Linked DNA regions of Homo sapiens. The protein of the gene in region 1 purifies or fractionates together with the protein of each later gene. This does not show direct contact. Each region holds a gene or a part of one and is shown in the gene's direction. Other genes may lie near its edges.

Region 1 (4,712 bases):
GAAGCCTCTCCTGCCAATCACTCTGTCACTCTCTGAGTAGCCCTGCTCACCCTCCCACTACTGGCCACCAAATGCCCGGTCTTTCTAGGAGTTGGTTCTAATTCTGGTCCCTTAGCCAAGCCTCTTCCGAGCCCCTGTGGAACCCTCTCCTCAAATCCCCAAGGGGTCCGAATAGGAGGAAACCTCACATTGCCTGACCCCATCCCTAATCTTCAGACCCTACTGTCTCTCCTTTCCCTGCCTCCGCCCAGGCTGGAGAAATGGGAGACAGGTTAGGCAAGGAGGGGAGGTGGGGCGCCGGGGTGACTCCTTAGTTCATTAGTTATTCTCTTTTACCTCTCCACTCCACGGGAAGTGACAGGGACATGTGTAATGGGGGGCGGGGAGAGGTCCCCGGGGCCCGCGATGAAGGGCCTGGCCGCTGCAGTCTCCGTGCATAGAGACCCGGGCCGAGTTCTGACTGAGGCCATGGGACCCCCTCCCCCCAGCCCGGAGGCACAGCCAAGCCTGAGAGCGTGAAGGAGAGGCTCCCCGCCCTGGAACTGAGCTGGGGAAGGGGATAACTGGAGAGAGAAAAATGTGGGTGGGGGAGGGAAGGCTTTAAGATCTACTTCTCAAGACTTGGGGTGGGGGGACGGGGCTGGACAGCTAGGCTTATAAGGATGAGGGGAGAGAGGGGACGAGGGCTTTGGAACCTGGCCTCGCTGAGAGGGGAATGAGAAGGGAGGAGTGCGTATAAGATCTAGCTCTCTGGTGGCTAGGGCCAGGTTCCCAGGTTCCCAGCGAGCACCAGCTGGGGCTGCGGGTGAGGTTGGGGCCCATTGTTGCAGCATTCATCGGGGAGACCCTCGGAACCTCACCAGTGGGGAGGAGCCAAGAGGTGTCTTTAACCCCTCTCCCAAATAAGCATCCGAAATAAATCGACACAAAACGTCAACACAAGCACCCTAGCGCGCCACCCCTCTCAGTCCAGTTGGCCACCTCTGAGTCTCCCCATCCTCCACTACAGAACCTTCAAGCCCCAGGTCCCGTGAGAGGCCACGTGGCACGCCGGGATTCTGGGGGTCGTGCCTTGTGACGCCCCGCACCGGCCCGGAGCGGGAGGGCAGAGGCCTTTCCCGCGGGGCACTCCGGGCTACGTGCAGTTCACCTCTAGGCAGGGGGCGCCCTGGCAGCGGAGAGACCACATGCCCGGGGGCGGGCCCTGCGGGGCGCGCTCCTCCCACGAGGGTGTCAGGTTTACGGAACCGAGTTCCCAGGCCGGACGCGCGGTGGCCTGACGGTCGCAAGGATTACATTCGCCTGACCCGGCCCGGCTTGACCCTGCCCGGGCGCGCCATGTTCGCGCGTGGGTCCCGGAGGCGCCGCTCCGGGCGTGCGGTGAGCGGGAGTCAGGGCAGCGGTGGGGGTCGGGGGTAAACTGAGGCCCAGGCAAGGGGGCAATGGATAGGCATAGCGAATAGGTGCCCCACAGAGGATCTGGGAATCCCATCCCCTGCATTCCCAGACCTGGGGCTGGGGCTGCTGGAGGCGAATGGATGGAGGAAGGTGTAGATCTGGTGGCCCAAACCCCCTAATCACCTCTCCACACACTTTCATCAGCACTCCTGGGACCTGGTGGGGACCCCTCTCTTATGAATTGTGGGAGGGAATCCTGAGGGCCAGAGAACTGGGTCTTGAAGCCTTAGGTTGAGCAGGAACCTCCTGAGCTGCTGCTTTTTTTTTTTTTTTTTTTTTTTGAGACTGAATCTCTGTCACCCAGGCTGGAGTGCAGTGGCGCTATCTCCGCTCACTGCAACCTCCGCCTCCTGGGTTCAAGCGATTCTCCTGCTTCAGCCTCCCATGTACCTGGGATTACAGACGCCCGCCACCGCGCCCGCCTAATTTTTGTATTTTTAGTAGAGACAAGGTTTCACCATGTTGGCCAGGCTGGTCTCGAACTCCTGACCTCAGGTGATCCGCCCACCTCGGCCTCCCAAAGTGCTGGGATTATAGGCGTGAGCCACCGAGCCTGGCCGACCTCCTCAGCTTCTAAAGGACACAGTACCTTGGAGGAATGTGCACGGAGGGATGGAGTCCTACACTCCTGGGATGCCGAAATGCTGAGAGTCAAGAGACTGGGATTTGGGGGGACAAGGCTTCCAGGGTTCCGCCTGAGCAAGGGAGTTTTTGACTTCTTAGATAGGAGGTTCTTTCACTTCCTTTGGAGTGGGTCTCTGACCTGGGAATGTGGGGTCTGGGTTTGATGGTCCGGAGAAGGAATAAATAGCCCTAGGATGGGATGGGTAAAGGCCAAGGTTTCTTGGGATGGGGGTTTCTGAATGGAGCAGGGGCCTCCTGAGATCCTGGGGAGGGTCCCCAGTTCCTTGGGTATCAGGGCATGAGGCCAGGGTTTAGGGGAGGAGCTCCTGAGCTTCTGAAGAGAGGGGCAGGGTTCACGTGGGGATCTCAAGGAAGAATGCGGTCTCGTCTCCTACCCTGTGGAACTGGAGTGCTGCTGGCGGCGTAGATGGAGAGGGAACCGGGATGAGGCCGGGGAGAGGATGCCCAGAGTAGGGGTTCTGTGCTCTAGTGGGGAGAGTACAATGAATTATAGGGGAGGTGCTTGAGCCCTGGAAGGATCTAAGGCTGGTGGGAGGTGTCTGAGGCTAGGGGCGGACGGGGAGGGGGGTCCGAGGCCAGCCTAGGAAGGGGAATTCCCTGAAAAGGGGACATATAAGGAGGTGGCTCCAACTGCCCCGCCTCTGCCTCGGTTGTGTCCCGCTCCCCCGCACTCTGGGCGCTGTCCCAGCCTGCCCAGCGCTGCCCAGGTAAGACAGGCCCCAGCGTGCGGTCGCGGGCAATGAAGTGGAGGGGCGGGCGTTGACTTCTCCTTCCCTGCTTCCGCGCCTCACCCGGCCCTGCATCTGCCCCCGCCCACTGCAGCCTCCAGAGGCAGAGGACCCAGACCGGGGCCAGCCCTGCAACTCCTGTAGGGAGCAGTGCCCTGGCTTCCTGCTCCACGGCTGGAGGTAAGTGGCGCCCCTAAAGGGCCTCGCCTTTGTCAGAGCTCCGCCTTCGGGGGGAAATCCAGGAGCCTTACGCCACGCCCCTACGCTTGAGCTCCGCCTACAGAGGGATCTCAGTTGGGAAAAGAGCCTCAGGCTCAGATTCAGAGCCCCGCCCCCTGACTCATTCCCCAAAGTCCTTTCCCAGGAGAGCTCCACCCACTACGCAGCCCCGCCCCCAGAAGTGTTCTCCCGTAGCCGCGGAGTCGCATCCCTAGGGAGATTCTTCGTCTCTAACTCTGAGCGCCGCCCTCTGGCCTCCAGCACCCCTCTTAGACTCAGACCTACTCTCCCAGGCCCAGCGTCCTATCCTCCTGCTGGAGCCCTGCACCCAATAAACAGAGCCTACAGCCCCCAGACTCAGGCCCTACCCACAGGCTCAGAGCCCACAAGTTCAGAGCCTCACCACAGGTTAGATGCCTGTGTCTAGTGAAAGTTCCCCCACAAAGCATCCCACTCCCCACGACCTGTCCTCTGGCTCACAGCCCAGCCACACCCTGGCTCATAGGCCCACCTCCTGCAGCCCTGCCCCCAGGCCCAGATCCCTGTCCCTGCTCACAGACCTTTGGTGGTGATAATCTGTATGTCCCCGCTCCTCCATTGGACCTGGGCTGCCGAGGGGTTCGGGTGGGCAACTCCTTAGTAATTGACCCCCATCCCGGCCCCCTCAGAAAGATCTGCCAGCATTGCAAATGCCCGCGGGAGGAGCATGCAGTGCACGCGGTGCCTGTGGACCTGGAACGCATCATGTGTCGGCTAATCTCGGACTTCCAGCGCCACTCCATCTCCGACGACGACTCAGGCTGTGCATCGGAGGAGTATGCCTGGGTGCCCCCAGGCCTTAAGCCGGAGCAGGTGACCAGAGGCCAGCCCTCCACTCTTGCTGTCCAGTGGGTGCACACTAATGCTCACACACACACACACACACTCAGGTGGGAACCTATTTCTGGGGCTACGCTAGAGTGTGCAGTCAGACCGAGGGTCCTTCTGGCCCCTCTGTGATGGAAGAGTGGTCAGCCCCCCATACCTTGGGTGACTGAGGGACCAGTTCCTCAGGGCCTGTTCACCCCAATCCTATTATTTTTGATTGATTGTTTTTGAGACAGGGTCTCACTCTGTTGCCCACCACAGCCTCCCTTGTAGCTGGGACTGCAGGTGCATGCCACCCTGCCTGGCTATTTTTAAAATTTTTTTGTAGAGACAGGGTCTCCCTATGTTGCCCAGGCTGATGTTGAACTCCTGGGCTCAAGTGATCCTGCCTCGGCCTCCCAAAGTGCTGGGATTACAAGAGCAAGCCACCATGCGTGGCCCCACTCCCTATTCTACCCTCCCAGCACTTCATTCACCACATGACTTCATTGATTGACTCATTCAACACATAGTTATGGGGCACCTACTGCATGTGAGACACTGTTCTAGGCACTGAGGACACAGCAATGAGCAAAACACAAAATAACATATCTGCCCACGGGCACGGTGGCTCACGCCTGTAATCCCAGCACTTCGGGAGGCTGAGGCGGGCGGATTACTTGAGGTCAGGAGTTTGAGACCAACCTGGCCAACATGGCAAAACCCCGTCTCTACTAAAAGTACAAAAATTAGCCAGGTGTGGTGGTGCACACCTGTAATCCTAGCTACTCAGGAGGCTGAGGCAGGAGAATTGTT
Region 2 (4,282 bases), on another chromosome or scaffold:
CCATGATTCAACAGTCTCAAAAATCTTACAAATAAAATTCTGAGAAGCTTTATTATTCTATAAATTCTTCAGGGTACAAAGGGTGACATATTGAGGTGAAATTGTCAGATTTACTTAGCCTGGTGACATGAATTAGCTGATTGTGGAACTCTCAGCAGCATTTCACGTATTGTTAACATGTATGGCATTTATTAGCATATTGTATATTATATAAGATTGAGGGATGTCATATTTTCAGCTTTCTTTTAAATAAAAATTGAGTATATTTTCCTATTTTATATCAGGTAACTAAATTATGCTAGTTATGTGGAAAAAATTGCAAAGATGCTTTGACAGATATAATCCCTTTGGTGCTCCATCTGATCAAAGTTGAAAAGTTGATGTTTTTTAAGAGACAAGCTTTATCATTGTCTCTGATTTCAGTAGAATAATGGTTTATTGTTAGACAATGATGTTTCTGCTTGGATAAATCAAAGATAAATTACAGTTACATGGTTAGATGCATCTTTTGTCATCTATATTGTAGTTTCTACATAACTGTAAACCTGACAGATAAGAATAGTTTCGGTTTGATTTTTGTTTAAAACAGATGAGTACTTCTTAATGTTCTAGACAAATGAGTAAAATGTATTTCTGGTAGAAATTAGTTGGGCAAAGATACTATGAATGAAAAAGTATTTTAAACGTAAAATGTTCTTTGTGAATATGTAAGTATAGTATAAAGATTTCTTTCATCCCATTTATCCCCTTCCTTTAAATAAACTAGTTTACAATTGGTAGATCTGTCTATATATAAATATATATTAAAGAACAAAGATATATATCTAAAAATCACCTAAATCTGCTTTATTAGACTACAGTTCACTTATTGCATAGAAACTGGACTTGGCTTTACATTCTTAATGTACTTTTACTTTTCCTCAAGATATGAACTTACTCTCTTGAAGCTGAATTTTCTTTTACTACTTAAATCATTTATGTATATCTGGTAAATTATGACCAAATTTTTGTTAGATTGCATACAGTAAATTGAAATACACACTTGGTACACTACGGGATTGTTGTGCTTTTGTTTGGTTTTAGTTGGAAATAAGGTTTGATGTAGATGGCTTGTTACTGTTAATTTAAAATATTCTATAATTGTCCATTACTTTATGTTGTGTTGTGACAGATTTGGCTATATTTTTAGTCAATTGAAATATGATACTTTAAAAGTTTGTTTTTAGGTAATCCAAAGGAAAAGTGTTTATACTCTTGAATATATTAGCCTCAGCCTATATAAAAATTTCTTTGAAGTAAACATTTTACCGGAAACAGAATTGACAGATTTTTCTACTTGCTGACTGCCTAACTTATTTTGTTTCATGATCTCGAGGGACTGCCTTTTCCCATCTAGATCTTTTAAAAAAATAGTTTTAGTACTAAGGTATACTACTGGACATTTCTATTTTTTTAAGTGTATTCTTTTTCTGACTTACAGTAAAATTTCAGGAAGTTGATAGATACTAAGAACTTATGATTGGTCTCAGAGGTAACAATGAAATACTCATAATTTTGTCTGTGGAACTCTGGCAGAATTATGTTACACATTTGGCGAAGTTGTCTCTTGTAATTTATATTTTAAATGAAAAAGTATTTTAGAGCTTTTAATGAAGGGGAAGAGTATAAACTTTCTTTCATATTCACTCTGTAGTTACAGACCGTCTCATAAATCAAGATTGTGCATTATTAGAGTTCTCAGAGACAGATACTTCCATATGGACCCCTGTTCATTTTTCTTATTTACTAGATATTTTGCTAAATTTAGCACACTAGCAATTAAGAGTTTAAAAAAGAAGAAACGTTATAGGAAAGGGAAACTGAACAGTAATGAGTAGCTTTGAAATTGGGGAAAACACACTAGCTGGGTTAGGTACAGCTATCCTAATGGAGAAGAGTGAGCTAAATGCGTTAATTCATGTAAAGTGCTTAGAACACTGGTACATAATAGGTGCATAACACATCTTAAAGTTGTTTAATAATAGATAAGAACCAAGAGGAAAAAGAAATAAGAAAAGATGGGGGAAAGGAAGGAGAAAATAGGAAATGAAAGGATTAGGACTTGGGCATTTATATTAATACAAAATGGTGTAAACGGCCTGAATATCACTGTAGTAGTATCATACGGGGGAAAGTGTGATGGAAAATAGGTTTAAAAATCTTAATTTTTAAAACTTTAGTAAGCTTTATTTATATTTTTTAGGATTTTCTGAACATAGCATGAAGGGTTTAGATTCATTTTTCTGAAAAACGATTAAAAAAACTACCAATTTTTTTTTTGAGTGCCCACACTTGCCGTTGTGCTGTATACATGATTTTACCTTAATCCTCTATAAGGTAGGTGCTAATTGTCTCCATTTTATAGATGAGGAAAGGCTCAGAGAAATTCAGAAACTTGGCTAATTTAACACAGCTGTGACAGAGCTCGAATTTGACCACGTCTGATTCTGAAGCCCATACTCTTTCAGGGAGGCTCTATTGCTGCCTCATTAAACAACTCTTGTAGAATTTCAGCTCTTAATGGAGTCTATGGATTATATTTTTCCTATAAGACAGCTGTGTTTAGAATTTTGAGTGTCTTTCCTCCCCCCAATAAATTTCCTTACTACTCTTTCTTCATAAAGCAGTTGTTTTGTCACTTTGACTATATTAAGACACATCAGTGTAGCACATGCTCTTAACTGGCTGTGGCATTTTAATTTTATAAAAGAATGGTTTTTATCTGAAGAACTAGATAGAAACCCCAGTTTTTGTGCCGTTCAGTCACCCAGATCCTTAAACTTAACTATGGTACATAATATCCACACTTAGAACTAACAGGTGTTTAGTCACTTTAGGACTTAAAATGGAAAGTTTTTTTTTTTTTCCTGCTGTATCTCTGCTTTCAACTGAAGTTAAAGAATTCTAGATAGTTTAAAATGTGTTAGGGATAAGCACACTTCAAAAGATGTTTTCTAGCCCTAAATTTTATGACATTGGGTACTTAAATTTGGAGTACACTAGCTATTGAGAACAATATTTTGGGTTGAGGAGAGATGGTTGAGGCCATTATTTAGTGGGAGCATTGGCATTTTGAACACTGTAAACAAAAGAACACTTCCGCCTGCTGTTTGTAAAAGCTCTTTGGGAAGATCTTTTACGAAGACCAACTTTTTAAAATGTAAATTACCTACCTAATATAAGTGTCCTAAGACATGTATGTAAACTTCCGGAACTGTTTTGTCTGTGTATTTAGAAAATACACAAGAATCTTTATTCAAACCTAAAAATATAAACTTGTGAGCACTAAACTGCTTCTGGCTTTGTGAATTTTATTGACTGACATTTAATTCAGATTTCTTTGCAAGTGTACTAATTTAGACTAATTGGGGTAAGGGGAACACCTTAATGAACTTTGACTTATGTATAATTCAGATATCTTTGTACTTAAGGCTTACAAGTTTGAATTATGGAATACTATAAGGGTTTTTTGTTTATTTGTATGTTTTTATATGAAAGTACATAAATGACAGACTACCTCCAAGTAATCCTGCTTTAATTAATAGCAGTGATTTGTAATCAGTGTATCTTTTAAGATTCTCTACAGGTTTTAGAAAATATTAAAAATTCCCTGTAATTTACATTTGTGCATAATCTTGGAAATGGGTTGAAAAGCAAAGGTAAACTGCTTCATCCCATGTTGTATATTTGTGGACTGATTGACTACAAGTGATGTGATGTTATAAATTTGAAGTCTTTGAAACTTTATTAATGTAGAGAAAACATAACTAGCTTTTTAGGTTATTTCAAAGTTAGTAATAGAGCAAAGGAAATCAGAACTGGCCAGATATTCAGACTTGACTTAGAAAAACAGGAGTTTGTTGATTTTGTTTGGAGAAGGGCACAATAAAGGGGAGCCCACATAGCATTATAATGCCTAGTATCTTTAAACATGTAAAGAGCTATCATGAGGCAGAAGAATTAAGAAACTTTATATGTTTCTAAGGGGTCATGATTGGGACCATTGGCTCAAGATTGAAAATCGGTTTTTAATTATCCAAAGATGAAATGGGGCTGCTTCAGAAAAAGGTCTACCACTGGAGATAACGCTATGAAAAGTGAAAGAGATTACTTAATCATTTTGACAAAGGCAGTATTGACCAGACATTTCTATTTCAGAGTTGGATTTGTGCTTAGTTTTTTTTAGGTGTTGGGACCCTTGTAGTTGCTTTTTATTTTGCTTAGTCAACAAACACTAAAATGA
Region 3 (4,282 bases), on another chromosome or scaffold:
AATGATGACATCCATCTGAGGTGCAGAGAAAGTGAGGAGGTGAAGAGGAGAGTGTTTCTGGCATTGAAGAGTTCCTAACTTTTTGGTATGAGAAAGTTGAAAAGTATATAAAACATTTGGATTGGGGATATTTATGTGATGTACTTGAGTGTGAAAATGGTAACCTAAAAATAATTTTTACTGGCTGGGTACGGTGGCTCACACCTGTAATCCCAGCACTTTGGGAGGCCAAGGCGGGAGGATTGCTTGATCCCAGGAGTTCGAGACCAGCCTGGGCAACATGGTAAGACCCTGTCTGTACAGAAAATATAAAAATTAGCTGGATGTGGTGACACATACCTGTAGTCCCAGCTACTTGGGAGGCTGAGGTGGGGGAATCACTTGAGCCCAGGAGGCAGAGGTTGCAGGGAGCCGAGATCTTACCACTGCACTCCAGCCTGGGCGACAGAGTGAGACCTTGTCTGGGAAAAAAAAAATTCTTAAATAGTGACACAACTTTTAAAGGAAACTTTTCAATGATACTTTTAATATTTGTAAAATTAATATATACGCAGTGTAAAAATTCAGAAAGTGGAAAAATATAAGGAGAAAAAAACTACCCCGACCCTGTGACCCCACAAAACATTTTAGATTTCATTTTGTTCCTTTCCCCACTATGCAGGCATTCACTGGATCCTTGCTGACACAGTGCGCTTGTGTCTGCTTTAGCTAGAATAGGGACAGAAAGATGGGGGGGTGTGAGTCCTTAGAGGATGTGGAGAAGAGAGAGCTGGGTGCCGAGCTGGAGGTGAGCTTGGTGTGTTCCAGGAATAGCAGGAGTGCAATGTGGGGAGCAAGGGGCCGGCTCCCTGGGCTGGGGCCAGGAGGTTGGGTTCTGTTGTGAGTGTGATGGGTGTGTGAGCAGAGTGATGATAATATTTATATTTTAAGAGGATCACTTTGACTGCTGGGTGGATAATTCACTCTAAGGGGGCAAAGGTGGAAGCAAGTGAGCAGCTCCTCAGGAGACTTCCTGTAATGGGATGGTAGCTGTGGAGTGATCATATTTGGGATATGCTTTTAGAAATAGAATCAACAGGATTTGCTGATCTAAATAATTACTTAATAGTCTGAAAATGTCTTTATTTCTCTTACGCTTCTATTCCTGAACTCTTGGATCATCAGTCAGATATAGATATTCTGGTCTGAAGTGTTTTTCCTCTGCCCACTTTGAAGGTATTCTTTCATTATTGATGAGAAGTCTGATGTTAATCCATTTCTTACTCCTTTGAAGATGTGTCTGGTAGCTTTTAGAATTTTAAAAAATCCTGCATGTTCTGAAATTTTGCAATAATGTGTCTAGGTGTGGAACTTAAAAATTTACCTGGATTAACACTTGATGATCCTTCAATCTGAGGACTTTTCCTTTTTTTAAAATTTATTATTTTTTTCAAAGCTAGTGACAGACTTAGAATTTTTTTTTTGAGAAGGATCTTGCTGTATTGTCCAGGCTGGTCGCAAACTCCTGGGCTCAAGTGATCCACCTCAGCCCCTGAAAGTGTTGCAATTACAGGTGTGAGCCACCACGCAGGGCTGACTTTTTTTTAATGATAGAAAAATTTTACTATTTTTTCTTCATAATTTCTAACTGTTCTTTTGTTGTGTTTGATTTTCTAGCTTGCATTTAAATTGTCCTTTAGTATCTCCATTCTGCTATTTAGCCCATTTAAAAAAATTCTCAGTGTTTAGGTTCACAGTGATTTCCTCTGTGCTACCATTTTGCCTTTGTGCTGGCCGCCACCATCCTGTGTCTGTGTATGTCTCCGCTTCTAGAATTTCACGTAAATGCAGTCATACAGTGTTCAGTCAAAAGTTTTGAGACTTGTTTCTTTCACTTAGTATAACGCGTTTGAGATGCATTTACAGTGCCATATCAATAGTTCACCTTTTCATTGCAGAGTAGTGTTCCATTGTATGATGAACCAGTTTATCCATTTTACCACTGAGGGACATTTGGAGTGCTTCCGTTTTTGGCAGTTATGGATAATGCTGCTATGAACATTCATGGACAGGTTTTTTATGTGAACTTAAGTTAGTTTTCTAGAATAAACACCTGCAAGTGGGGTTGTTGGGCCTCAGGGCAGGTGCATGCTCATTGTTTTCAGAAGTTGCCAGACTCTTTTCCAGTATGGCTGTGGCTGCTTTGCCGCTGCACCAGCAGTGTGGGAGAGCTCCAGGGATGCCATGGCTCCACCCGCACACAGCAGTGTGGGAGAGCTCCAGGGATGCCATGGCTCCACCCCCACTCAGCAGTGTGGGAGAGCTCCAGGGATGCCATGGCTCCACCCGCACACAGCAGTGTGGGAGAGCTCCAGGGATGCCGTGGCCCCCCGGCACTCAGCAGTGTGGGAGAGCTCCAGGGATGCCGTGGCCCCCTGACACTCAGCAGTGTGCGAGAGCTCCGGGGATGCCGTGGCCCCGCGGGCACTCAGCAGTGTGGGAGAGCTGCAGGGATGCCGTGGCCCCGCTGGCACTCAGCAGTGTGCGAGAGCCCCAGGGATGCCGTGGCCCCGCGGGCATTCAGCAGTGTGGGAGAGCTCCAGGGATGCCGTGGCCCCACTGTCACTCAGCAGTGTGGGAGAGCTCCAGGGATGCCGTGGCCCCACCTGCACTCAGCAGTGTTAGTGGTTTTTAATCTTAGCTATTCTAGCAAGTGTGTTGTGATATCTCAGTGTGGTTTTAATTTTAATTTTCCTAGTGATGTTGAACATCTTTGTGTGTGTGTGTGTGTTTGCCATTCATATGTCTTCTTGGTGAATTATCTGTTCAAAACTTTTGCTTATGTCTTTGTGTTTTGCACATATTTTTTCTCAGTATTTTCATTCTCTTAACAGTGTCTTTTGCAGAGCAAAAGTTTTTAATCTTGATGAAGGCCAATGTATGAATTTCTAAAAAAATGGGTCATCATTTTGGTGTCATGTAGGAACTCTGCCAAACTCAAAGTTGCAAAGATTTCTTTGTTTTGTTTTATTTCTAAGAGGGGCTTATGTTTTACTCTTCTATTTAATTTTTGCTGGGGTGATCAGACCCAACACCAGGTCGTGGGGGTGACGAAGTCTGGTGGAGTCGAAGGAATGAGAAAAGACAGTTTGAGAGCGAAAGTGGGTCCAGGGGGCCATCGCTAAGTATGGAGGCTGTGAAGGCCCTGAGCTCTGGAAGCCCAGACTATTTATTGGTGATCAAACAAAGAAACAGGTGGTGAGAATGTGGGGGTCGAAAGGTCGCGTTGCATTAAGCACATGATTTACAGGTGTGATGATTTAGCATCTGCTCTGCTACTTGAGATAATGGAGAGCAGGTTCTTTTTTTTTTTTTTTTTTTTTTTTTTTTGAGACGGAGTCTCACTCTTTCGCCCAAGCTGGACTGCAGTGGCGCTATCCCGGCTCACTGCAAGCTCCGCCTCTTGGGTTCATGCCATTCTCCTGCCTCAGCCTCCCGAGTAGCTGGGATTACAGGCGCCCACCACCACGCCCGGCTAATTTTTTGTATTTTTAGTAGAGACGGGGTTTCACCGTGTTAGCCAGGATGGTCTCGATCTCCTGACCTCGTGATCCGCCCGCCTCGGCCTCCCAAAGTGCTGGGATTACAGGCGTGAGCCACCGCGCCCGGCCGAGAGCAGGTTCTTTTAACTCAAGATACAATCGATCCTGGGAGAGCAAGGAGCAAGGAGCCAGCAAGTCTAGACACATTCCAGAGCCACGAGTCCTGGATTCCATCCAAGCCACGAGGGGTTTTATGCCCTGGGCTGAGATTATGGTGCGTCAGGGTAGCCTTCCGCCCTTTAGCACAGATTGGCGTTCCAAAGGCCTCAAGGGATTTTAGACCCTGGACCCCGGACATGTTCCAAGACTCTTTTACGTTAGTCAGACATGCAAGCCCTGCCTCAGCTTCTCCCAACACTCAGCTTTTCCCAACAAATTTTCATATGTGGCATGTGATATAGGTTGAAATTCATTTTTGAGTTTACCAAAGAAAGCTTTTTCCCCCCTCACATTTTAGTTGCTTTCTTATCTTGAAGACTAAAAGTTTGAAAACGGAGCTTTAAAAAATATTGATGCCATGGCTCCCCACTCCAGACTGATAAAATCAGAATTTGTGAAAAGTGAGTCTTGGCATTAATATATTTTAAAAAAATGTTTTATTTTAGAATGATGATAGACTTACAGAAAAATTGCAAATATAGAGTTCCTGTAAGCCCAGTACCATTTTGTCTTACATAACCGTGGTACACTTGTTAGAATTA
Region 4 (4,282 bases), on another chromosome or scaffold:
GGGCAGTGGCGCGATCTCGGCTCACTCCAAGCTCCGCCTCCCGGGTTCACACCATTCTCCTGCCTCAGCCTCCCTGAGTAGCTGGGACTACAGGCACCCGCCACCGCGCCCGTCTAATTTTTTGTATTTTTAGTAGAGACGGGGTTTCACCATGTTAGCCAGGATGGTCTTGATCTCCTGACATTGTGATCCGCCCGTCTCGGCCTCCCAAAGTGCTGGGATTACAGGCGTGAGCCATCGTGCCTGGCCCTAGTCATCTTTTTTCTTAATTATTCTAGCTAAGACTTGTCAATTTTGTTGATCTTTTCAAAGAGCCAGCTTTTTGTTTGGTTCTCTCTATTGTTTTTCTATTTTGTATTTTTTTTTTCTTTTTGAGACGGATTCTCACTCTGTCGCCCAGGCTGGAGTGCAGTGGTGTGATCTCAGCTCACTGCAGCCTCCGCCTCCTGGGTTCAAGCGATTCTCCTGCCTCAGCCTCCCAAGTAGCTGGGACTACAGGCATGGACTACCACGCCTGGCTAATTTTTGTATTTTTAGTAGAGATGGGGTTTCACCATGTTGACCAGGCTGGTCTCAAACTCCTGACCTCAAGTGATTTCACCCACCTTGGCCTCCCAAAGTGTTGGTGTTACAGGTGTGAGCCACTGTGCTTGGCCTACTCTGTATTTATTTCTGCTCTAATTATTTTTTGTTTCCTTCTGCTAGTTTTGGGTTTAACTGCTTTTTTTTTTTTTTTTTTTTTTTTGAGATAGAGTCTCGCTCTGTTGCCCAGGCTGGAGTGCAATGGCGTGATCTCAGCTCACTGCAACCTCTTCCTCCTGGGTTTAAGCAATTCTCCTGCCTCAGCCTCCTGAGTAGCTGGGATTATAGGCGTGCACTACCTCGCCCAGCTAATTTTTGTTTTTATTAGAGATGGGTTTTCACCATGTTGGTGAGGCTGGTCTCAAACCCCTGACCTCAAGTGATCCGCTTGCTTCGGCCTCCCAAAGTGCTGGGATTACAGATGTGAGCCACTGCGTCCAGCCTGTTTTTCTTTTCTTTCTTTTTTTTTTTTTTTGGAGACAGGATCACCCAGGCTGGAGTGCAATGGCTCAAACATGACTCACTGCAGCCTCAACTTCCTAGGCTCAAATTGATCCTCCTGCCTCAGCCTCCCGAGTAGCTGGGACCAACAGGCATGCACCACCACGGCTGGCTAATTTTTAATTTTTTTTTTTTTTTGAGACGGAGTCTTGCTCTGTCTCCCAGGCTGGAGTGCAAAGGCGTGATCTCAGCTCACTGCAACCTCTGCCTCCCGTATTCAACAATTCTCCTGCCTCAGCCTCCTGCGTAGCTGGGACTACAGGTGCACGCCACCATGCCTGGCTAATTTTTGTATTTTTAGTAGAGACGGGGCTTTGCCATGTTGGCCAGGCTTGTCATGAACTCCTGACCTGAAGTGATCCACCTGCCTTGGCCTCCTGAAGTGCTGGGATTACAGGCGTGAGCCACCATGCCTGGCCTAACTTTTAAAATTTTTTTAGAGATGGGGGTCTTGCTATGTTGCCCAGGCTGGTCTCAGACTTCTGGGCTCAAGTGATCCTCCTGCCTCAGCCTCCCAAAGTTCTGGGATTATAGGTGTGAGCCACTGTGCTTGGCCTAACAGCTCTTTTTAAAATATCTCTTTAGGGTATACACGGTGCTGTTGTGGTTTGGTATCTTGTTCCTTTGTATTGCGGGATATTTTTTTTCCTTTCTAACGTGGGTATTTGCGGCTGTAACCTCCCTTCTGGCTTCTGCTACACCCCATTCGTTTTGGTTGTCATGAGCCCTCTATTGGGGGTCTCCACTCTCTGGTTATAAACATACTGTGGAGAATGTCCTGTGGCGAGTCTTTGTGCATCTTCCATCATTTCTCTAATTCATCCCGAAGAGTCAAATGAGCGGGTCTCACGGCCGTCATGTTTTATAGCTTCTGCCCCAGGAGGCTGTCTGTGTACTTGTGTCCTGTGGAAGGTGTTCTGTTTTTTTCTACCCTTTTCTACACTTGGCATTTTAAACATGTATTTTTCAGTGTGGTCAGTGAGGATTTGTGCCTCGGTTTGGTCCCTCGGTGTGGGAGTTCTGGGTATGCCTTCTGGGCATTTGCTTTTGGGTCCTGGAGGCACTCTAGGTGGCGTGGGGTTGGGTGCAAGGGTGGAGGGAGACGGCACCTTACTGGGGGTCTGGGTGCCTGGCCTCTGTGACCAGTGTCCTCTGCCCCTGTGCAGCCGGCCCAGGCCTTTGTGGTGAAGCGGGGCGTCCACGTGTCAGGAGCGTCTCCCGAGAGCATCAGCAGCCTGCTCTCGGAAGTGGCCGAGTATGGGACCTGCTACACGCGCCTGAGTCATTTCTCTCTGCAGCCCGTCCTGGACTCTTTGTACAGCAAGGGCCTCGTGTTCCAGGTATGGCCTTTGCCTCATGGTTGTCACACACCTTTGTGAGAACGGTGCACACGACCTGGAAGAGAGAATCTCAGAGGTCCTTCTGCAGGACCAGAGAGTCTAAACCTTTTCTTTCCTTGCTAACATCTGAAACCCGATAGTGGCTCTTGAGGGATGGGTCAGTGAGGATGTTTTACCTCACTAGAAACTTGGGGCAGATGTGTGTGGGCCCTGGGCTGTGTGGGCCCTGGGGTGTGTAGGAGGCAGGTGCAGCCAGCATAAGGGGTGCGCAGGGCAGGAAAGGCGTGAGTGGGGCTCTTGCTGCCTGCTCCCCAGTGGGCCCGGCACATTGTGGATGACTGACAGCGCAGGGCCCTCCTGTTGGGTGAATTTACATTGCTGGGAGTTCTGAGCCAAGTCTGGCTCCGGAAGCTGCTGTTTGGTGAGTCTTGAAGCTGGCTCATGTGCTGGGAAGAGGCCCATGGGACAGGGGCTGCACCTTGAGTGGGAGAGAATAGGCAGGTGGATGATGGGGCATTTGGGTTTGGGGGATTGAGAGGAGGGTGTTGGGGAAGGTGGGCAGAGAGCCCTGGAGGAGCCAGGCAGCGCAGCCTCCTTTGACTGTTGCTGCTGCAGCAGGGGCTGTCGGGTGGGGTGATGTGGTGAGGTGTAGGTTTTAGATGGGCTGTGGAGGTGGGCATGGTGGGAGCTGCACGGGGCGGGGAGAGCTTCTAGGCAGAGGCTCAGCCCCGGGGGACTTGAGAGCTAGAGATGGTGGAGAAGGGGTCAGAGCAGGGGACGCTGAGAAGGGCTGGACTGTGGTTCTTGTTCATCTGGCAGGCATAGCCAGGCGGCTCCTGGGGTGGGTGGACTGAGATTGGTCCAGGGTGCCCCTGTCTTAGTGTGACCTGCAGGGCCTGCTGCTGTGGCGTTGCCCAGGATGCTGGTGCCACTGAGACAGCTGTGGTCGGAGCAGCTGCAGCCCTCACAGCACTAGTGTCTGTGCACAGAGCACGGCCGCCATTTCCCCCCCAGCCCCTTTGCCATGCCCCTGGGGCAGCTGGGCTCAGATGAGAGGAAGGGTTGGTGGTGGGCGCCCCTGGGGCAGCTGGGCTCAGATGAGAGGAAGGGTTGGTGGTGGGCGCCCCTGGGGCAGCTGGGCTCAGATGAGAGGAAGGGTTGGTGGTGGGCCACAGCTTCTGGCTTCTTGTGGATGGGCCGCATTTCCACCTGGCCCGGTGGCGGGGTGTGGCTCACAGAGGCCCATTGCTTGGAAATGGAGCCCAGAGCTGAGGCAAGAAACAAAGCGCTGTTCCCAGCACTGGTGCCCCTCAGGCCCTGGGCACGGCTGCGTCCATGTGCCTGGCCGCCCTCCTCCCAGCCTCTTTGCCCACAGGCCTTCACCAGTGGCCTGAGGAGGTACCTGCAGTATTACCGGGCCTGCGTCCTTTCCACTCCGCCCACCCTGAGCCTCCTCACCATTGGTTTTCTCTTCAAGAAACTTGGCCGGCAGCTCAGGTGAGCCTCAGCATGGCGGCTGAGCAGGGGACTTTGCGGGAGCGGTGTGGGGCTTGCTGGGTGGTGGAGGGTTTGCCCTGCTCCCTGGCAAGGAGGGCCTGTGAGAACAGCCCTCAGCAGGCGACCGGATGGCCCTTGGCCGGCCGAGTTCACCAGGTGCCCGGTGCTGAGCGGGTGTGTCTGCCGTGGGCCCACCACAGCTGGCCCCATCCAGGCCCTCCAGGTCCGGTGGCTCCTGCCTAATTGGCACACAGGGTCCCTGGAGATGTGGCGTCCGGTACACACAAGCTGGTTAGTGAGCAACCAGGCTCGGGGGCTATTGGCAGGTGCCATCAGAGAAGGAAGAGTGAGGAGCTGGGCAT
Region 5 (4,282 bases), on another chromosome or scaffold:
GTGCGAGGCGGTCTGAGTCCAGAGCCCTTCTTTCTACCATGACATTTACTGGGGGCAATATCTGGAAGTACCAGGTTGGTGTCCAGTGGAGCCAGGCAATTCATTGGTAGGCCAGGGCCAGTCCAGGTGGAGAGGTGTGTGAGGGGTGTGTGTGTGTGTGCCTGGTGAGGCAAGGGTGGCTTTGTGGACTGAATATTACTATAGTGCTGAGGGGTAGGGGTAGATAAGTACTGACTAGGAGCTCTCAGAGAAGGATTAGCCTTGGCCTTCTCCTTCCTGGCCAGGGTCCCCCAGAAGTGGGGAAACACCAGACTCCCTGCTCCCATTGGCTTTTAGGGAAGATGGGCTGGCTCTGGACACATCCCGAGGCCACAGTGGGGACTGGGCTAAGGAGGCCCTGTGGGCAGGGAGCTGAGCCTTGGTGGATGGGTGGGGGTGGAGCAGGCTGGCACTGCTTCCTTTGTGGGCTAGAGGCTTGTGGATCAGAATAGTAACAGCTAACATTTATTGAGCATTTATTATGTGCCAGGCCCAGTTTTAAGGGCTTCCATGTACAACTCATACGTTCTTCACAAAGCCCTGTGAGGTGTAGATGAGGTATAGGAGTTATTCTTCCCGTTTTACAGATTGATGGAGCTGTGGCTTAGATAGTTGTTCAAGGTCAAATAGCTAGGCTGTGGGGGAGTCAGGATTCAAACCTAGGCAGTGTGGGTCAGAGCCATGTTCCTGAAGGCCATGCCAGGCAGCCTGTAGTTTCTCAGAGGCCATACTCTGTTTTGTTCAAGTTGAAATAGTCACTCAGTCAGATGCATCCCTCTCCTCAAAGGCCTCCCAGTCTAGCTGGGAGAGATGCAGACATGACACACTAAAAGTAAAGAGTGTGCTATTGCATAGGCTCAGCATGGATTCCTATTTTGGTGCTCAGGGAAGGCTTCAAGAAGACGGGGACCTTTGAGCTGGGCACTGAAGGCCAAGTCGGATTTCGATGGTTGAAGGGGGAAGGGCACCCACTTCCCCAGGTCAGAGGGGAAGGAAATAGGAATGCCTCTGAAGAAGAGTGGGCGGTCTGATGTGCGTGGAACAGATAGTGTGTGTGGCGGAGTGTGAGCTGGGAGGTGACTCAGAAAGTCACCTAGTGTTTGGGTTTTTGATGGAGCTCTGGAATCCACCAGACGTAGGCTATAGTCACAGCAATGCATTGTATTAGCCACGTGGCCTTGGGCACATCACTCAGCTGGCCCAAACCTCAGTTTCCTCATTCGTAAAATGCAGATAAACATGCCTGTCTCACAGGGACCATGTTGTGGTTGTTATATAAAGCACCTAGTGTAATGCTAACACATTGCAGGAACTCAGTAAACATTACTTCTCTCCCGCTTCTGTCTCTCTTAAATGTCAGGCCAAGGTGTTTCGACTTGACGTGAGCCGGGATGCTCTAGGAATCTTTGCAGGATTTTAGTCTGCTGAGGAGCATGACAGAACTGTGTTTTGGGAAGGTCCTTTTGGCAACCGTATGATCCACAGGAGAGGGTGGACGTGATCTTACAGGAGAAACCTTAACTGTGGGGACTTGGAGGGCTGGGGAGGGATCAAGATTGGCACTCATTAAGGTGTCCCTCTGGTAGTGGGTGGTTCGCCAGGTTGGAGAAGGAGGAGCTTGGAGTGGGTAAGGCCACAGGGTCAGGAATTCTGTTTCAGGCCTGGTGAGTTTGAGAAGGGCTGGTCTCCCTTTAGTCATCTGGAAGATTGGGTAGCATCTTTTTTGCACATCTGGCCTGTTTTTCCTTTGAATTATTTCTTTTGAATAAATCCCCATCAGAGCTTCCTCTATAATAGCAGTAAATTGGGACTAAGTGTCCAACAATAGGAAGATGATTGGGAAAGCTTTGGAACATCCACTGGATAAAATAATACGCAGTGGTGAACACCCACAGAAAAACTGCTTGCAGTGGATGGAGCTGTGCAATTGCAAAGCTCTTTTGCATCCTTGATTCATTTTGTGCTTATGACTGCTCTGCGACAGAGGTGGGGCCGGGGCTAGATCCTTTCTGTGTTTGAAGAGAATGACGCTAGACTCCAGTCTCCTTGAAGGCAGAGTTGAGTTCACATTTTATTCATTGTTTCGTCGCAGCATGTTGCTCAGTGGTTTGCAAATACTTGTCCGATGAAAGAATGAGTGAACTAATCAAGAGGGGAAGTGACTTGATCAAGGTCACTCAAGTTGTAAGACATAGTGCCTGCCATATTCTTGCTATTCCCTACTTGCCACATTCTTCTCACTAACCACTCACTATCTTCGAGGGGAATAGGACAGAGAGGTTCCCAGTGAGGACCTGGCACTTGCATAGAACAGGGTTTAAGTCTTCTTTCTGTTTTTACTAGCTGTGAGGCAATTGGCAAGTTAATTAATCTTTCAAAGCCCCAGTTTGCCCAGCTGTAATGTGGATAGTCCAAGTACCTGGTTTTAGGGTTGTCATCAAGATTGAATAAGTTAAGGCATGTAAACATCTTGGCATGGTAACTAGTACATAGTGAAGTATCCATGAACATTAGTGGAGATGATGATGATGTCATGATGTGATGTCATTAATGGTCTGATACAATTAATGTTAAATGGGAAAGAAGACCCATAAGATTATCAGTATTCATATTACAATGGTATAAAATTAGGTATGAACATAGATACAGATTGGAAGAAAACAGGTAGAAAATGGAGTTCCAGCAAGCATATGGGAAGTGAATAAAACAGAAAAACAAATATTTCTTTACTGTTATATTTACTTTTCTTTAGTTTTAATTACAAAAAAAATTTGTGGAAAATCTAATAATTCAGAAGTGTAGGCCAGGCACGGTGGCTCATGCCTATAATCCCAGCACTCTGGGAGGCTGAGGCGGGTAGATCACCTGAGGTCAGGAGTTCAAGACCAGCCTGGCCAACATGGTGAAACCCCATTTCTACTAAAAATACAAAAAGTTAGCCGGGCATGGTGGCTGGCGCCTGTAATCCCAGCTACTCAGGAGGCTGAGGCAAGAGAATCTCTTGCACCCGGAAGGCAGAGGTTGTGGGGCAGTGAGCCGAGATTGCGCCATTGCACTCCAGCCTGGGTGACAGAGCGAGACTCCGTCACAAAAAAAAAAAAGAAAGAAAGAAAGAAAAAAAGTGTATTCTCCCCTTAGATCCCCAAACAAATCCTACTCTCCAGTCGTAGCTAATAACAGCATGTTGTGTATCCTTCCAGGATATTTTCTATACCAACATAAACATACAAACCAGAATGGGATCATACATTGCATTATTGTTTTACAACTTGCATTTTTCATGTAACTACACATTGACATCTTTTTATGTCAGTAGATATAAAATCTATCTCAAAAATTTTTGCAATAGGTATGTTATACTTTCATAATTAAATTTTTAATGGATAAACCCTACTAATTTGGCCAGCCCCCCTGTTGATTGACATTTGAAGTTGTTTCCAATTTTACGGTATTCTAAGTAACGCTAACTGAACTCTAACAGTATTTAGACAATTAGTGAAAATCAAGTGAGAGAAGGAGTCAGAAACCATGAGACCGTGAGAGTTGCCCTCAAAGGTCTGCTGCTTCTCCCTTCTCCTGTTCCCTCCTCTCCTCACTGGAGCCTGGGGGAACTGGTCTTGGAGGAGGCCATCTCTCTGTCACCCTCAAAAGGTGGTGATGTCCCAGGGAAAGACCCTTTCTTTCACCCACCCAGTATGGAGCTCTCCTAGGAAATTTTCAAATTCTCTTAGGATGCTCTAAGCTGCTGCTTGGGCTGTGCAGCTGCCCACACCCAGACTGTCCTTGGACAAGCTTTCTACCTTCTCTGTACCTCAGTTTGTCCATCTGTCTGGTGGTGATCAGAGCCATTGCTGCCACTGAGTGTCTTCTATATGTCAAATACTGTGCTAGAGCAAGCTTCATGTGCATTATCTGTTTTTCTATTTTTTCTTTTTATTTTATTCTTCTTATTTTTTTGTTTGTTTGTTTTTTGGGTTTTTTTGTTTTGTTTTTGAGATGGAGTCTTGCTGTGTTGCCCAGGCTGGAGTGCAGTGGCAGGATCTCAGCTCACTGCAACCTCCGCCTCCCCGGTTCAAGCAATTCTCCTGCCTTGGCCTCCCAAGTAGCTGGGATTACAGGCACGTGCCACCTGCCTGGCTAGTTCTTGTATTTTTAGTAGAGACAGGTTATCACTGTGTTGGCCAGGCTGGTCTCGAACTCCTGACCTCAGGTGATCTGCCTGCCTCAGCCTCCCAAAGTGCTG
Region 6 (4,282 bases), on another chromosome or scaffold:
CCCAGCCCACAGAGAGCACAGGACCAGCTCTCAGTCCCAGCCCCTTCCTCTTCTTACAGTATGAGCAGCTTCCTCCTCCCCCATTCCTCCCTGCCTGCTTTCCACACCTGTCCTCACCTGTTCATGCTCCTCCCTCCCTCCCCGGCCCTTCTCACTCAGGTGCAGGACAGCCTCACGTACTGAGGGGAAGTGTGCTCACAGAGCCCCCACCCTCCTCAGCTGCCTCCAGCTCACCCTGCTCTGCCCCAGTGCGGTGTTCAAGACAAATAAAAGACTTTTTCTCATTCAATTTTACTTGTTTTTTTCTGTTTTGTTAAATTGCCAGCAAATACAACCAGATTGGTCTATAAACATAGTGTTTCAATCTCATTAAAGGCCTTTGTGCCTCAACCCCAGGGCCTAGTTGGCAGCAGTAAATTTCACCAACACCTGCATAAAATTTTGGAAAAATTCAAATTTGCCTGTGGAAAGTTTGGTCACCTTCCTTTGACTTTGCATTGAAATTAAAAGTTTATAAAACTAGCATGCAAACCAAGTGTTCACCTGTGTAGTTTAGAGTGGTAAGTCGAGACGTGCCTGCAGTGGAATGGCGCTGAGGACTGTGTGGCAGGGGCTGGGGTTGGGGCCGGGTGGGGTGCGCAGCAGGGAGCCCTGGTGCCCTCCTGCACCCTGGCCTCCCTGAGCCAAGGCCCTGCAGTCACCACCAAGCATCCACCGGGAGACAGACAATCTGCAGCACAGTTCACATAAGCAGCCAGTCCCAGGAAAACTGGAAAGAAGTGTGGTTCAGAATTTTACCAGTAGAAGTGCTACACTGTGATCTTGGTTAAACACCAGATTATTCTTGGGCCTCTGAAACAAAACAGAAAAAAAAAAATTGTTGTATTAAAGGTAATTACGTTATTGTAATCTTCATCATGATCAAATGTGACAGTCTTTCTTCTGCCATTTTTTTCAACTAAAGATCAGACAAATATTTTCTCCTAAGTTTTGTTTCTTAATTTATCTGGAATTTATTTTTATGGTGGGAAATAAGAAAGTAAATGTAGTTTTGTCCCAGGTGGGAACTTAGACGACACCCCCCATCCCAGTGTCTCACGACTCCTGTCTTGTTCTTCGTGTCTTCTCCAGCTCTGGGCTCTCCCGTTGGTCTAGAATATGTTTGCAGTGGTCCCTGACAGGTGTAGTTTCTGTGGCGTTGTGTCATGCCCTTTGGTGTGCCTGCTCTCCTCACCCTGTTCCATTCTTTTTTTCTGTTTCTTAAGCAGTTCTTACTAGTTTGCTTTTGGATGAGTTTTCACAACATTGTCCAGCTCCTGTAGAAAAACGTGAAATAGTGTTGAGTGCCTACATGGATCCCTGAGCTCAGAGGTGATGGACCGGTTCTGACAGCCAGAGCCCACCACCGGCTCTGCCCCTCGTGCTGAGCCTTGGTGCTTGGACCTCACGAGGCTCAAATCCTGCGTGTGTTCCAGGCCACTTTCATTTTGCCAGTTTCTGGGCTTGCATACCAGATGACCATGAGCATCTCAGAATGGTGCAGAGTGCGGGGGAGAGCTGCCGTCCGTGCTAGAGAGGCCTGTTCCAGCCCCACCGCCAGGCGGTGTGTCGTTGGATTACCCACAGTCGCGTCTTCTGCAACATTTTCCTGCAGTCCTTTTTGCTCTGAACCCGCCCCACTGAGCTCCCTCGCACACTGTTGAGCCTGATACTCTGTGAGCAGACCTGACCAGGGCACCGAGATGGGGTGGTTTGAAGGCACCTCCTAGGCAGCATGCCACGTATAGCCTGCTGGAGAGTGGCGTCAGACTTGACACACGCAGCTGGTGCCAGCTGGGGTGCTGGGCGCCAAGGCAGCAAGGGTGGTACAGCCAGAGGAGCTCCCAGGCCACAGCCATAGCGCTTTCGAATTGGGAAAGCTACTGGCTGGGTACATTTCAGGGGAGATGGGGGGAGGAGTATTTGCTTTTGAGAAATTTTTTAACTTTCCCTTAAAACTTAGAAGGCTTTGGAATTGGAATACCAAAAATGCAGTAGAAAACCAAGGAAGGGACTCAGGAGGGAGCAGAGCGTGAGGGCAGAGAAGGGAATGAACTTTGTCAGAGGTTCTCAGACAGCTTGTAAATGTTTTCCTTTTGATGAGAAACAAAATTATTACTCAGGCTTAGCTAACATGTATTGGAAAGTGAGTAACTGATGTGCATTTTCAGAGTAGAAGATCCTAAAAACACACTCTTGTCTCCCAGTGGGGGCACACACCCTGCAGCAGGTGCTCAGCAGGCCCAGCACCCAGTCCTCAGCATGGGTCCCTTCTCTGCACTTATGCTCCCGGGACCCTTTTCCCAGACAAGAGTGTAGGCCTGGGGTCTGAGAGTCCTGCCTCTCCCACTGCTACTGTGCGCCTGGGCAGATTCTTAGCCCCACTGAGCCCCAAGTTCCTCATCCCTAAATGAAGAGAGGAACTTTGTTTTGAAGATTACTTGGTCGTACATTTCCTCGTGATGAGCACTAAGTAAATGTTTCTACAATTGTCAGCCTTTCTTCAGAGCGTCAGGGGGTTACTCGGTTCTTCCTGGGACCATCAGTCTCACTAGGTCTGTCTCAATGGACAGGGATCTGGGAGGACTGGGCTTGGAGTCTGACACAGTCTCAAATTCCAGCGATCAGGAGAGCTCAGGGAGATAGCTGGGCAGGCTCTGATGGAAACACTGTCCCAGGGAGGGCTGCAGGAAGCAAGCAGGTCTCGTCACCCTCCATAGCATGCCCTTACCCTGTGAGGGCAGAGAGGGCAGTGCACCTGCAGCCCTAAGGTCAGCACTTGACACTGCCTGCGTGGTCATGCAAATCACTGTTGATCAGAGGTAATCCAGGAAACATTTTATTTCCTTCTTTTAGAACAAACTCACGATGTTGGACATTGCATCAAATAGAATCAAAAAGATTGAAAATATCAGCCATCTAACAGAGCTGCAAGAGTTCTGGGTAAGTTTAATACACGCTGGGGTTGATGACACTTTGACTAAACTGGTCTCACTGATTAAAATGTCTTATGAATGAATACAAGAATCTCCTGTAAGCCTTCATGCTGAGTGACTCCGCACATCATGAGATTTGGGGTGGGCGCTCTTGTAGACTTGTATTGGGTGTTGTCTGTGCTCCTCAGCGTGAGCCACAGATCAGCAGCATTGACATAGCTTGTTAGAAATGCAAAATCTTGGGCCCCACCATAGCCCAGATGAAAACTGAGTCAAAATCTTTGCTTTACAAGACTCCGGGTGATTGCAGTACACACAAAGGTTGGAGAAGCCCTGATCTAGGTATGGGTAGAACCTACAATTGTCATTTGACCAAATGGTTTGCAAACCTCAGCAGAGAGGCAGACGCATTCCCTACAGATATATTCCAGCACAACAGAAGGAAATGTTGGATGGGTTTCTGCAGTTAGTCATCTTGGAATTTGCCTTGTATTTGTCTTGTCACAGGTATGGTTTCAGGAGTAGTGTTGTGGAGTCAGCAGGAAGAGAAACAGAATATAAGAAGTTTTTGCAGTTCCTCTAAAGGGGTTGGGAAATGATCCCCGAGTGGAAGTCTTCAGTGCTAGGATTCCCTTAGAGAAATCTCCTAAGGTTTATTGCCTTTCCGCTAGCACGTGGCCCTGCAGAGACTGCGGCACAGGTGTCACCCTGTGATGCTGGGAATGTAGTAGTGTCCTCAGATACATTCAGTCTAATCCAGGATTCATGCTGAGTGTAAGGCATCATTCTTCCTTGTCTCTCCTCTAGCCGTGCTGCTGACCCTGCTTATGTCCTGTGCTTTCTCCTTTCCCCACTTTAAAAGGTCATCCAAGTTTCCCTAGAACACAGGTGGCCTGCTGCAAATGTTCCTTGCCCCTTATTAGTGGCACTGGGTCTTGAGTAGTGTCATGATGGGATACCAGAGCATGTCTGGGAAGATCAGAGCCAGAATTTGGCAGGTGATAAAGATGTACCAGGCCAGGGGGAGCCTCAATGAGTCCAGGTGGGTCTATGTGCAGCCCACCCTTGAAGGAAGGTGTGGCTGGTGGTAGGCTGGTTGAATTAGTGCATAGGGAGTTGGCAAAGAAGCCAGGGAACAACACAAAGAAACCAAACAACAGGAATAAGGAGTCCAGAGACAGAGGACCAGGTGATAGGGAAAGGGCACCTGGCAAAAAATTAGGGAGCAGGTTTGGGAAACGAGCTGATACTGAAGCAATGTTCCTGAAGCGTAACGATTCCTTCTGCATGCCCTGCCTAGGAACAGA
Region 7 (4,282 bases), on another chromosome or scaffold:
GTGCTAAGGGCTCTGAAAAGACTAAATATGGGTATTCTTGGAACATGGTCATGGGATAGGGTCTTGGAGTGACTAGGGAAGGCTTTTCAGTGGAAGGTATGTCTAAATTGCAAAGAGTTTGGGAGGAGCCATCAAGAGACATCCAGGCAGAAGGAATGATATGTGTAAAGGTACAGGGGCCATTAAGGACATGGTTCATTTGGGGAAACAGTAGTAATTCAATTGAAATGATCAAATAAAGGCTGAAGTAAAATGTTACAAGAGATGGTGTGAGGGAGAGGTGGTACTTGAAACTGTGTAAGTTGGTACTTGATGAAACTTGAGTTAAGCAGAGGCAAGATCACAAAGGTGCATGTAAACAGTGGAAATGAGTTTGTACTTGAACCTGAAAAGAGTTGGGGGCTATTGAATTTTAAGCAAGTGGGTACCACAGTCAGACTTCATGATAAATCACTCTGGATGCTGTGTGGGGAATCATTTTTTAAAAATCAAGATTAGAGGCAGGTCGATCAGTTAAGAGAGTGTTGGGGAGACTTAGGTGAAAATAATAGTCCCCTAAACCAAAGATACTAACATTGAATATGAAAAAAGAGCAAAGAGGTGTGAGAGATGTTTAGAGGGTGGAATCAGTAGGCTTAGTGAGTGCTTGGAAATGAGTCAAGAGGGAAGAATCATTGATGATACCCAGGTTTCTGCCTTCAGCAGCTGGGCAAGTAGTGACGATAGGGGTGTATACTGCTGGTATGCGGGGAAGAAGATGGGTCTAATGGGGGGCATGTTGAGTTTGAGGAACTTGTGGGAAATGTTCAGTGGGCTGAGCCTGGGGCTCATGAGAGCACTCCAGCTTACTTTAAATCTACATATGGAATCATCAGCATGGGGCTTGGAGGTTTTTAATCTGGGGCCCTTGGGTGGCTTCAGGAGGTTCATGAAATGTTATATGTCTGTACATTTGTCTGGAAGATCCATAGCTTTTATGATTGCAGAGAGGTCTGTGACCTAAAAATTAAAACTATCTGTTACACTGATCAGTCACAGAAGACGATGTGATTGTATAGGAAGTGTAGGCTGAGAGGAAAAGACAGTCTGGGACAGTGCCCTGAGGAGCACCAGCAGAGAAGACATAGAGAGAAGACCTGGAAAACAAAAAAGACCACCTCTTTCATCGTACAAGTAAGGAAGCTGGTCGACTGTGCAAGTTTTTACTCAGTAGTAAAGGCAGAGTGAGGGCCCAAATCCCAGTATTTAAGCCACTCTTATTTCCACCATGCCACTCTGCTGCCTGAAGATGAAATACATCTCTCCAAAATGGGTGGTTTGAGAACTGTGCAACACCAGATTTGAAGTCCCTGCGTCTTTATTTTAAATCATGGGTTGGGAGAGTTACTAGGTATTTTCTTGTTTTCCTTTTCTTGCTTCACACTGCATCTCGATGTGTACTCTTTCCTTGACTAGCGCCTGATTGAGGAAGAGAACATGCTGGCACCATCTCTGAAGCAGTTTTCCCTACGAGTGGAGATTTTGCCATCCTACATTCCAGTGAGGGTTGCTGAAAAAATCCTATTTGTTGGAGAATCTGTCCAGATGTTTGAGAATCAAAATGTGAACCTGACTAGAAAAGGTAGAAATCTCCTTGTCCAATGTACCACACCCTCAAAATCTCTTCTTCCTTAATACTATGTGGCCCCACAGCATGCCTGGTCAGAGCGAGTGGTCGATAATATTCCTATCCTGAGATTGTAGCAGAATCATGACGTTTGTCTGAGAAGCAGGTGAAGTTGCTGCCCCACTGAGATTAGCCCTCCCCAGAAAACCCTAACTGTCCTGGGTATTCTCCGTCCTCCTTTGACGGTGTCTTCCTATTTTGCAGGATCCATTTTGAAAAACCAGGAAGACACTTTTGCTGCAGAGCTGCACCGTCTCAAGCAGCAGCCACTCTTCAGCTTGGTGGACTTTGAACAGGTGGTGGATCGCATTCGCAGCACTGTGGCTGAGGTTTGTGTTTCATCGTATATATATATATATATATATATATATATATATTTTTTTTTTTTTTTTTTTTTTTCTTAGGCAAAATTGGACTAGTTTCCTAGAAATTGAGTTACTTGGTCGGGCGCAGTGGCTCACGCATGCAGTCTCAACACTTTGGGAGGCCAAGGCAAGTGGATCATCTGAGGTCAGGAGTTCAAGACCAGCCCGGCCAACATGGTGAAACCCCGTCTCTACTGAAAATACAAAAATTAGTCGGGTGTGGTGGCATGCACCTGTAGTCCCAGCTACTTACGAGGCTGAGGCAGGAGAATCGCTTGAACCCGGGAGGCGGAGGTTGCAGTCAGCCGAGATCACACCATTGCACTCCAACCTGGGCAACAGAGCAAGACTCTGTCTCCAAAAAAAAAAAAAAAAAAAAAAAAGACACTGAGTTACTTGACTTTTGTTTTTATCTTGATGTCTTGATGAGTTAAGAACCGAGCTTGGAAAGAAATGTTGCAGAGAGTTGAAGGCAGAAAGTAGAAAAGAAAAGCCTCTGTTTTCATTAACAGAGGCAGAACTGCCTTCCCATTTTCCTATCTAACTAAAAGACAGGTGGTTTTTAGTTGGTTAGTTAGTTGAATAAAGGGGGGATCTTGGTTTAAATTCTGAAAATCAGCATTTTGGATCTGTCTCTATCGTTTGCAATAACTCCTAGGAATCAACTAATTCTGACTAAATTTTGTGTCTTGTAGTTTAGTATGGCTCATAACTTATACTTTCATTTCTATACACAATCATCTTATGAGGAAAGCAGAACAAATATTATTTTCTCATTCTTATAAATGAAGCAAACACTCAGCAAGCTGACTTGTCTGGCTTGCCTGGTGTGGCACAGTGAGTAGCCATAGTGAGGTCAGTGCCAGGCCTCCGACTCCTGGTGCACAGTCTTCTTCATTTTGAATTGTGCTGGTGCCACCGACTTAAATTGTGACCAGTAATTTTTCAAAGGAGCATATATGTTCTGTGGCTTATATTAACATTTGTCTCATGGATATGTGATAACACGAAATGAGACATTTAGTCAGCTGTGTTGTTAACTATATTCCTGGCTTTCAACATTGGCTAAGCATAGAATCGCATGAGAAAATTTTATTTTTTATTTTTTATCTTTTTATGGAGTCTTGCTGTGTCACCCAGGTTGGAGTGCAATGGTGTGATCTCGGCTCACTGCAACCTCTGCCTCCTGGGTTCAAGCGATTCTCCCGCCTCAGCCTCCCAAGTAGCTGGGATTACAGGCACACATCACCATGCCCAGCTAATTTTTGTATTTTTAGTAGAGATGGGGTTTCACCATGTTGGCCAGGCTGGTCTCAAACTCGTGAGCTCAAGTGATCCTCCCACCTCAGCCTCCCAAAGTCCTGGGATTATAGATGTGAGCCACTGCGCCTGGCCCGCATGAGGAAATTTTAAAACCTGCACTTGCACCAAGTCCTTACTTCCAGAGCTTCTGATTCATAGGTCAGGAGAGGGTAGGTACCTTTATTTTATTTTATTTTTGAGACAGGGTCTTGCTTTGTCACCCAGGCTGAAGTGCAGTGGAGCAGTCGCGGCTCACTACAAACTCCGCCTCCCGGGTTGAAGCAATTCACGTGCCTCAGCCTCCTGAGTAGCTGGGACTGCAGGCCTGCACCAGCATGCCTGGCAAACTTTTTTGTATTTTAATAGAGATGGGGGTTTCACCATGTTGGCCAGGCTGGTCTTGAACGTTTGGGCTCAAGTGATCCTCCTGCCTTGGCCTCCCAAAGTGCTAAGATTACAGGTGTGAGCCACCACGCCCGGCAGGTACTTCTATTTAAGCAAGCCAGTCCACCCACCAAAGACAAACCTCTACAGGGGTTTTTGAAACAGACAGGACTAAAAAGCAGTGCACTTCGTTCAGTGTCTGGAACTGCTAAGAGCATCAAATCTCCATGGGTTAGAAGCACAGTAATCTATTATAAATATGGTTTCCCTTTCTAGTCACTGTCTCAAAAACTCCTGGTCATCAGAGGTAGAGCTGTGATATAGACACAGAATGTTCGATCTTAAAATGGCTGTGAAGTATCATTTGATTTGAATCTTTCTGGGCAAGTAAATATCTAAATGACCCATGTTCCTGTCCTTTCAAAATTTTAAGACATTGCTTCAACCCCGTCTATAGGCCAAGGCAGTTTCTAGTCTAGAGGGGTTGGTATCAGTTCCTTTCATTTTTGAAAATTGAATCTAGTTCTGTTGCTTTATCATTTTTATTATAAATCTTTGGAAAGTA

What was found.
Region 2: the proteins of PRICKLE3 (region 1) and ZBTB10 purify together in Homo sapiens (affinity purification with mass spectrometry; 2 studies listed by BioGRID and IntAct, with this or other methods). This does not show direct contact.
Region 3: the proteins of PRICKLE3 (region 1) and TUBGCP3 purify together in Homo sapiens (affinity purification with mass spectrometry; 2 studies listed by BioGRID and IntAct, with this or other methods). This does not show direct contact.
Region 4: the proteins of PRICKLE3 (region 1) and TUBGCP6 purify together in Homo sapiens (affinity purification with mass spectrometry; 2 studies listed by BioGRID and IntAct, with this or other methods). This does not show direct contact.
Region 5: the proteins of PRICKLE3 (region 1) and EPB41L1 purify together in Homo sapiens (affinity purification with mass spectrometry; 2 studies listed by BioGRID and IntAct, with this or other methods). This does not show direct contact.
Region 6: the proteins of PRICKLE3 (region 1) and PPP1R7 purify together in Homo sapiens (affinity purification with mass spectrometry; 2 studies listed by BioGRID and IntAct, with this or other methods). This does not show direct contact.
Region 7: the proteins of PRICKLE3 (region 1) and TUBGCP4 purify together in Homo sapiens (affinity purification with mass spectrometry; 2 studies listed by BioGRID and IntAct, with this or other methods). This does not show direct contact.

The regions. Positions count from the first base shown.
Region 1 is NC_000023.11:49,182,924-49,187,635, reverse strand, and holds the start of PRICKLE3 (prickle planar cell polarity protein 3), read left to right. Parts: upstream 1-1,262; 5' UTR 1,263-1,338; coding exon 1,339-1,380; intron 1,381-2,742; exon of another isoform or gene 2,743-2,810; intron 2,811-2,925; coding exon 2,926-3,011; intron 3,012-3,718; coding exon 3,719-3,902; intron 3,903-4,712. UniProt on the Homo sapiens protein: Involved in the planar cell polarity (PCP) pathway that is essential for the polarization of epithelial cells during morphogenetic processes, including gastrulation and neurulation.
Region 2 is NC_000008.11:80,520,726-80,525,007, forward strand, and holds part of ZBTB10 (zinc finger and BTB domain-containing protein 10), read left to right. Parts: 3' UTR 1-4,282. UniProt on the Homo sapiens protein: May be involved in transcriptional regulation.
Region 3 is NC_000013.11:112,577,646-112,581,927, reverse strand, and holds part of TUBGCP3 (gamma-tubulin complex component 3), read left to right. Parts: intron 1-4,282. UniProt on the Homo sapiens protein: Component of the gamma-tubulin ring complex (gTuRC) which mediates microtubule nucleation.
Region 4 is NC_000022.11:50,227,545-50,231,826, reverse strand, and holds part of TUBGCP6 (gamma-tubulin complex component 6), read left to right. Parts: intron 1-2,249; coding exon 2,250-2,423; intron 2,424-3,798; coding exon 3,799-3,920; intron 3,921-4,282. UniProt on the Homo sapiens protein: Component of the gamma-tubulin ring complex (gTuRC) which mediates microtubule nucleation.
Region 5 is NC_000020.11:36,157,462-36,161,743, forward strand, and holds part of EPB41L1 (band 4.1-like protein 1), read left to right. Parts: intron 1-4,282. UniProt on the Homo sapiens protein: May function to confer stability and plasticity to neuronal membrane via multiple interactions, including the spectrin-actin-based cytoskeleton, integral membrane channels and membrane-associated guanylate kinases.
Region 6 is NC_000002.12:241,166,886-241,171,167, forward strand, and holds part of PPP1R7 (protein phosphatase 1 regulatory subunit 7), read left to right. Parts: intron 1-159; coding exon of another isoform or gene 160-183; exon of another isoform or gene 184-289; intron 290-790; exon of another isoform or gene 791-852; intron 853-2,895; coding exon 2,896-2,982; intron 2,983-4,282. UniProt on the Homo sapiens protein: Regulatory subunit of protein phosphatase 1.
Region 7 is NC_000015.10:43,384,336-43,388,617, forward strand, and holds part of TUBGCP4 (gamma-tubulin complex component 4), read left to right. Parts: intron 1-1,455; coding exon 1,456-1,621; intron 1,622-1,870; coding exon 1,871-1,995; intron 1,996-4,282. UniProt on the Homo sapiens protein: Component of the gamma-tubulin ring complex (gTuRC) which mediates microtubule nucleation.